Linked DNA regions of Homo sapiens. The protein of the gene in region 1 interacts with the protein of each later gene in a pairwise test. Each region holds a gene or a part of one and is shown on either strand. Other genes may lie near its edges. The genes, in order: ZNF662 and HUNK.

Region 1 (3,822 bases):
TAATATATATTTTTATATATTTAATATATATTTATATATTATATATTTGTATATTTAATATATAAATACATATATTTATATATTTAATATAAATATATATATAAATACATATTTTATATATAAATATATTTATATAAAATACAAATATTTTTCTATAAAATATATATTTATATATTTTATATATATATAAATATATATATATATTTTTTATATATATAAATATATATATATTTTATATATATAAATATATATATATATTTTTTATATATATAAATATATATATATATATTTTTTGAGACACAGTCTCACTCTGTCGCCCAGGCTGGAGAGCAGTGACACAGTCTCGGCTCACTGCAACCTCTGCCTCCCGGGTTCAAGCGATTCTCCTGCCTCAGCCTCCTGAGGAGCTGTGACCACAGGTGTGTGCCACCATGCTTGGCTAATTTTTTTTGTATTTTTAATGGAGATGGGGTTTCACCATGTTGGCCAGGCTAGTCTTGAACTCCTGACCTCAGGTGATCCACCCACCTCGGCCTCCCAAAGTGCTGGGAATACAGGTGTGAGCCACCACGCCCAGCCTATCCTTATTATTCTGTACCATCAAATTTCTGCTTATCTATGTTACCAATCTTTTCACCCACCTTTATTCTCTCCCTACCACTTCCATGTCTGCTCTTTTCCTGATGGGCCTCACTCTTCTGACTGAGTCAGCCTTATTTGTATCTTGACCCTGGCAGGATATCCATTTCTAAAGCCTGCTGGGATTTCCCATCCTGAGCAGGTGGAAGAGCCATTAAACCTGAAACTGCAAGGAGAGGGTCCAAGCCTGATTTGTCCGGGTAAGTGAGAGGGAAATGAGCATTCTTCTCTCAGTCACATCTTTTCCTATCTTTCTTTTATAAGATGTAAAAGTCCATTTTGCCATTCATGTTCTAAACAAATATGGGGACCAGATCCTTAAATCAACCAATTAAGAGAAAACTTAAACCCTAAGCTTCCAACTTTCATTAGGACAAGCTCAATTAATTAAATTAATTAAATTAGGATGGGTCTTTTGCGTTAGACTTAAACTGAACAGATGGCCTGCCCCATCTAGCTGCTATGATCACCCAATATTTTTAATGTAGATGCTGTATTTTACTCATTGTGTTAGTTGTTAGAGATAAAAAAAATCAAGTCATATATGGCCCTTATCCTGGAAGGACTCACAGTCTCATGGGACATGATACATAAATGTATAATTACAGAAAAATGATGAAACTGTAACAGAATGTGAATAAGACACTATGAGAACAAAGAGGAGGGAGTCTTTTCCGAGTTCTGCCTGGAGTAGTTTGAGAAAGCACTTCCCATGGTTTCATGGTGAACTTGGTGCTTGGATTGAAAGAGAAGACTATACTTCCTTTTAGTGTTGAAAAGTATGAGGAAGCTCATTCTTGCTACTGTCTGCTGCATGTGACAAGCCCAGGTTCTCAGGTATACCACTAAGGATTCCTTATTTCTGAACAGGTCCTCTGCCCTAAGTCCTGGCCTGTTCTTCTCATGGTATAAACTGTACTCAGCTACCTAGGAGGAATTCTGACTTTGTTTTCCTTAGATTCAATTCACCTGTTTTCTGAGAGCCTACCCTGGTCCTTGGTTTGGTGCCAGGAATCATAGCCCGCAGGGATTCTATCTAGTTGCTGTCTTTACTTTTGGTTTCTTTCTGTGTATTAGCCTTGTTTTTGCCATTTTCAGCTGGGACAGGGCCACTGAGACATGGGTGGCACTTGGAGAGAAGTGGACGTATTAATACCACTTGGTGACCTTAGTCGCTGTGTCATGGATAATGATGACATTTGAAGCTCCAATTTCTTTTTTCAGAGGGTGTGTTGAAGAGGAAGAAAGAAGATTTTATTCTGAAGGAGGAAATTATTGAGGAAGCACAGGACCTCATGGTCCTATCAAGTGGACCCCAGTGGTGTGGATCCCAGGAATTATGGTTTGGGAAAACCTGTGAAGAGAAAAGCAGGTTAGGGAGATGGCCTGGTTACCTCAATGGGGGACGTATGGAAAGTTCTACAAATGATATTATAGAAGTGATTGTCAAGGATGAGATGATCTCAGTAGAAGAGAGTTCAGGGAATACTGATGTCAATAACCTCCTTGGTATACATCACAAAATTCTAAATGAGCAAATATTCTATATATGTGAGGAATGCGGCAAGTGTTTTGATCAAAATGAGGACTTTGATCAACACCAGAAAACTCATAATGGAGAGAAGGTCTATGGATGTAAGGAATGTGGGAAGGCTTTCAGTTTTCGATCACATTGCATTGCACATCAGAGAATTCACAGTGGGGTGAAACCCTATGAATGTCAAGAATGTGCTAAGGCCTTTGTTTGGAAGTCAAACCTGATTCGTCACCAGAGAATACATACTGGAGAGAAACCCTTTGAATGTAAGGAATGTGGGAAGGGCTTTAGTCAGAACACAAGCCTTACGCAACATCAACGGATCCACACTGGTGAGAAACCATACACATGTAAGGAATGTGGGAAAAGCTTTACTCGAAACCCAGCCCTTCTTCGACATCAGAGAATGCACACTGGGGAGAAGCCTTACGAATGTAAGGACTGTGGGAAGGGCTTCATGTGGAACTCAGATCTTTCTCAGCACCAGAGGGTCCACACTGGGGACAAGCCTCATGAATGTACTGACTGTGGGAAAAGCTTCTTTTGCAAGGCACATCTTATTCGACATCAAAGAATCCATACTGGGGAAAGACCCTATAAATGTAATGACTGTGGGAAGGCCTTCAGTCAGAATTCTGTCTTAATTAAGCACCAGAGGCGCCATGCTAGAGACAAACCCTATAACTGTCAGATCTCTCACCTTCTTGAACATTAGAGAGTGCATAATGGTGATACTTGTTTATAATTCTTATGCTGCAGGAACCCTAGAGACAAAATGAGATGACCATTCACAATTTGCTGTAACCCTTAACTTAAATAGCCAGTATTATCTTGCCCTTTTGAACATTTACCATGTACTCTAGCAAGACTGGTCCCTCTGTTCTATGATGTTTTAACAAGGCATCATTTAGTTGGGCAGCTACTCTGTATCAGGTGCTAACCACTTTACATACATTAATTTGCATAACAATCCTATTAAGGTAGGTGCTCTTCTCCCCATTTTACAAATGAGAAATCTGAGTTGAAAGAGGTTATAAAACTCATTCAGGGTTGCTCAGTTAGTAAGTTATAGAGTTGAAATTGGAGCCAGGCCTATCTGACTGCAGAGTTTACTGTTCTTTACTTAATTGTACATATTTATGTCTCTGCCCATTTTTATTTGCTTATTTTCCTGTGCTTTTAGTTTCCCTTCATCACTCAGATCTAGCTCCTTCAACTAAGAAGATCTCTCTTCCTCTTCTACTTGTAATCAGTACCACCCAAGTTAGTATTTAATTATGTGCCATCTTATATTTTTCTAATAGTCTCATGTCTTTTAATCTTAACCCCAGCTAAATGACTCTGAGGACCAACAGTACATTTCTTTTATGTTTTTCAAATCCTGAAACATTAATCTTTGACTAGATATAACATGCTCATGATAAAAAAGAATTGAAATAGTTGAAAAGGGTGTTCAGTGAAAAGTAAATTTCCTTGTCATTCCTATCTCTTGAGTTCTCCCCAGAGGCAATCACTGCTACTGGTTGTGTATCTCTGTAGATACTCTTTGTATACAAGTGTTTATTAGTATTGCTTTTCATAATTCTGTCTCACTGAAAACCTTATTTGATGGAAGCAACATTGCAGTTAAATTGTGAACTCTAAGA
Region 2 (3,822 bases), on another chromosome or scaffold:
GAGTTCAAAACCAGCCTGGATAACATAACGAGACCCCATCTCTACAAGAAATCTTTTTTTAAAAAATAGCTGGGCATGGTGATGCACACCTGTAGTCCCAGCTACTCAGGAGGCTGAGGTGGGAGGATCACTTGAGCCCAGGAGCTCGAGGTTGCAGTGAGATATGATGACACCACTGCACCCCAGCCTGGGTGATAGCACAAGACCCTGCCTCAAAAAAAAAAAAAAAAAAAAAAAGCTTCATACACACGTTCATACACACGAGTACTAAGTACGCAAGTAAGTGCTCACACGATTAGGGTAGAAAGGGCTGGAAGCCCATCAGGACCGCTCAGGGCTCTCTGGATTTGTTGTATATGTTGTGTTGGCACCTCCTTGGCTTGACTGCCCCAAATAGAACCTGATGTGAAGGTGGAAGCAGTTATGTTTCCAGTTGCCTTTGCAAAGCCGTTATTGCAGGCACAATCTTTAAATGTAGACAGTGGGTTTCCAGAAGTCCTGCTCTGCTTCACCTTGGTTTGTTGGGCTTGTTCCAGAAGAATTGACCTCCTAGGAATGCCCTGCCCTTGCTGGAATGCCTTGGAAGAGCACAGTGAAAGGGAACTGGGGTCCATTGAAGGCCTCTCGCTGCCCAGGCAGAGGGAGATGGGCTTCCTGGAGCATTGGCTGGGCCACAGCTCCTCCCTCATTCAACACACAGTTGAGAGCATAGAGTATTGAAAAGGTGGAGTTTCTCTAATCAGTTTGGATGACTTTTCAAAGAGGAATCCCATTGTGTCTTCTAGTATGTGTCTAAGTGCATATGTTTGCTTCTGATTTGTAGGATAAAAAGCCCAAAGAACAAGAAAAAAGAGGGGATTTTCTTCATCGACCATTCTCCAAGAAGTTGGACAAGAACCTGCCCTCGCACAAACAGCCCTCAGGCTCGCTTATGACACAGATTCAGAACACCAAAGCCCTCCTGAAGGACCGGAAGGCCTCCAAGTCCAGCTTCCCCGACAAAGGTGGGTCAGCTCTGGGGACTCTCTCAGGCCACTCGTGTTGGGCTGTGTGTCCGCTGTGTAGCCCTCACAGGGGATGGTCGAATGGGCCCTAGAGCAGAGATGATTCCTGTGCCCACAGAAAAGCAGGATTAATGGACCTGAGGTTGCCTGAGCACAGTCCAGGACCAAGCTGTGTGGCATTAGCCATCTGTGCAGGAAGAATTTGAGAAAACAGAGATGGGGTGCAAAGTATTACGGAAACAGAAATTGGGGTGGATGATATTGTCAGAACAGAGGTTGGGAGGCACAGTATTGCAGGAGCAGAGATCAGGGTGTGTGGTACTGCAGGGGCAGAGATGAGGCTGTAAGGAATTGTGGGAGTAGAGATGGGGTGCAGAGCAGAGACCGGGTATCTCCCTGAGTTCAAATCCCAGCTCTACTGCCTGCAGAGGTCCAAGTTCCTTTAGTGCTGAGGATCTTCACTGGATTATTTGTAAGGCCTCCCACCTGTTGGAGCTGTTGGGTAGATGAGATGAGATGCATATATAAGCTCCCTCACCTGAGTCAGAATCCAGCCCATCACAGATAACTGACAAATATGTTTCCCTCCTCTGGGACGAGTGCTAAAAGATGCAAAAGGCAGACCTTACTGGGCACAGGCTTAACACATGGTAGAAACGCCAAGAGGGGACACAGGAGCTGAGGGCGTCCTGAAGCAGAGCCATGAAGTAGAGGAGAGGTTCTTATTACTGAGGGGGATGAGACACTTCTTGGAGTTCAATCTCCTAAAATATGAAAGACCAGGTTCAGAGAGGGCCGTGGCTGTCTGAGATACACTCAGGTGTAGCGGGCAGTTAGTCCCTGAGCGGGACTTGAACCTGCCTCCTGTCCTTCTATCTCCCATGCTGCTCCCGGAGAGAAGCCACTGTACCCACTTTGCCCAAAGCAACCTGCTTTCCCTGGGGCAGAGCATGCAGTGGATCGGGGAGGGGCAGCAGTGTCCATGTGGCAGCTGGAACACTGGAGACCTTGGCCATTAATGAAGTTTTACTTCTTTCTGCTGATGCATCTCAGGTGCCTGCGCCGGCCTTTCATTTCGGTGCCTGTGTGTTTATTTCTGCAAGGCAGGGAGGCTTCCCAGTGCCCTCAGCCACTCCCAAAATCGATCCCAGTGGGCAGGAGCTTGCTCCTGCAGCTGGGCCTCCACAGAGCCTATAAAACGTTATGGGAGAAGAAAGAAGCTAAGACAGAGCTTATTCCGCATGAACTTGGCTTTATTTCCCTCATCCCCAAATCTGTAGGGGGTTTCCCCTTTCTTTTCTGGCCCAGTTTCCAAACCTGGATTCTAGTCTATGCCAACCAGAGACAGAAACCATGGGGATCTGGCAGGTTGCCTTAACTGTATGGATGGATGATATTCTTCCCCCGTTCAGAATTGGATGAGGTTCCATCCAGATCAAAAGTCACGAGGGAGCCTTAAAAGGGAAGGAAATCCTGGCACATGCTCCAACACAGATGAACCTGGAGGACATTATGCTAAGTGAATTACGCCAGTCCCTAAAGGCGGATACTGTGTGATTCCACTTATATGAGGTCCCTAGAGTGGTTAGATTCATAGAGACAGGCAGTAAAATGGTGGTTGCTGGGGGTTTCAGAGAATGGGGATGTATATGGGGTGTTAGATTTGCAACAGGAAGACAGTTCTGGAGATTGATTCTACAACAGTGTGAATATACTTATTATTGCTGAACTGTACACTTAAAAATGGTTAAGATGATAACATTTCTGCTACGTGTTTTTTACCACAATAAATAAATTTTTTAAATGTCACAAGGGAAACATGTCTTCCACTGTGGGCTGTCCAAGGACCAGATTGGCAGGAATTCAGTCAAGGGACCTTGGTGTGCTTCTGGGAGTTTTATGGATGTGCTGTTGAGTGCATGTACCTTTTTTATTCCAAGATCCTTTGGCAAGGTCCAGAATTTTTTTTTCTTTTTTTTCTTTTTTTGAGACAGAGTCTCACTCTGTCACCCAGGCTGCAGTGCAGTAGTGCCATCACGGCTCACTGCAGCCTCCACTTCCCAGGCTCAGGTGATCCTCCCACCTCAGCCTCCCAAGTAGTTAGGACCACAGGTGCATGCCACCACACCCTGCTAATTTTTTAAAATTTTTTTAGAGACGGGGTCTTGCCATATTGCTCACGCTGGTCTTGAATTCCTGGGCTCAAGCAGTCCTCCCACCTTGGCCTCCCAAAGTGCTGGGATCACAGGCGTGAGCCACCGCTGCCTAGGGTCCAGAATTTTAAGCAACCAAAAGCAGGGACGATGTTAGGCTGGGGCCATGAGGCAAATTGGAATCCAGGAGACGTCCTGTCGCCAGCCCTCTGTCCCTCCATCCTAGGAAGACTGCCCGACCTCTGTGGGGAGAGTGACATGCTGCTGGTGACTTTTGCAAAGTAGCCAAGGCTGTTTGCCGGTTGGTTTCTTCTGACCTTGGCGGGAACTGTCTCAGTTAAGCTGGAGGTCACAGCAGGCAGGAGAAGGGCCGTGAGCACTGTCCGGACGTCCTCATGATTGTTTATGCTTTCTTGGTGTGCAGATTCCTTTGGCTGCCGCAATATTTTCCGCAAAACCTCAGATTCCAATTGTGTGGCTTCTTCTTCCATGGAGTTCATCCCCGTGCCACCGCCCAGGACCCCGAGGATTGTGAAGAAACCGGAGCCCCATCAGCCAGGGCCCGGAAGCACTGGCATCCCCCACAAGGAAGACCCCCTGATGCTGGACATGGTGCGCTCCTTCGAGTCTGTGGATCGCGACGACCACGTAGAAGTGCTGTCTCC

The links.
Region 2: the proteins of ZNF662 (region 1) and HUNK interact in a two-hybrid assay, tested with the Homo sapiens proteins (one large-scale study listed by BioGRID and IntAct).

Annotation. Positions count from the first base shown.
Region 1 is NC_000003.12:42,912,464-42,916,285, forward strand, and holds part of ZNF662 (zinc finger protein 662), read left to right. Parts: intron 1-737; coding exon 738-839; intron 840-1,863; coding exon 1,864-2,891; 3' UTR 2,892-3,822. UniProt on the Homo sapiens protein: May be involved in transcriptional regulation.
Region 2 is NC_000021.9:31,994,945-31,998,766, forward strand, and holds part of HUNK (hormonally up-regulated neu tumor-associated kinase), read left to right. Parts: intron 1-823; coding exon 824-1,004; intron 1,005-3,581; coding exon 3,582-3,822.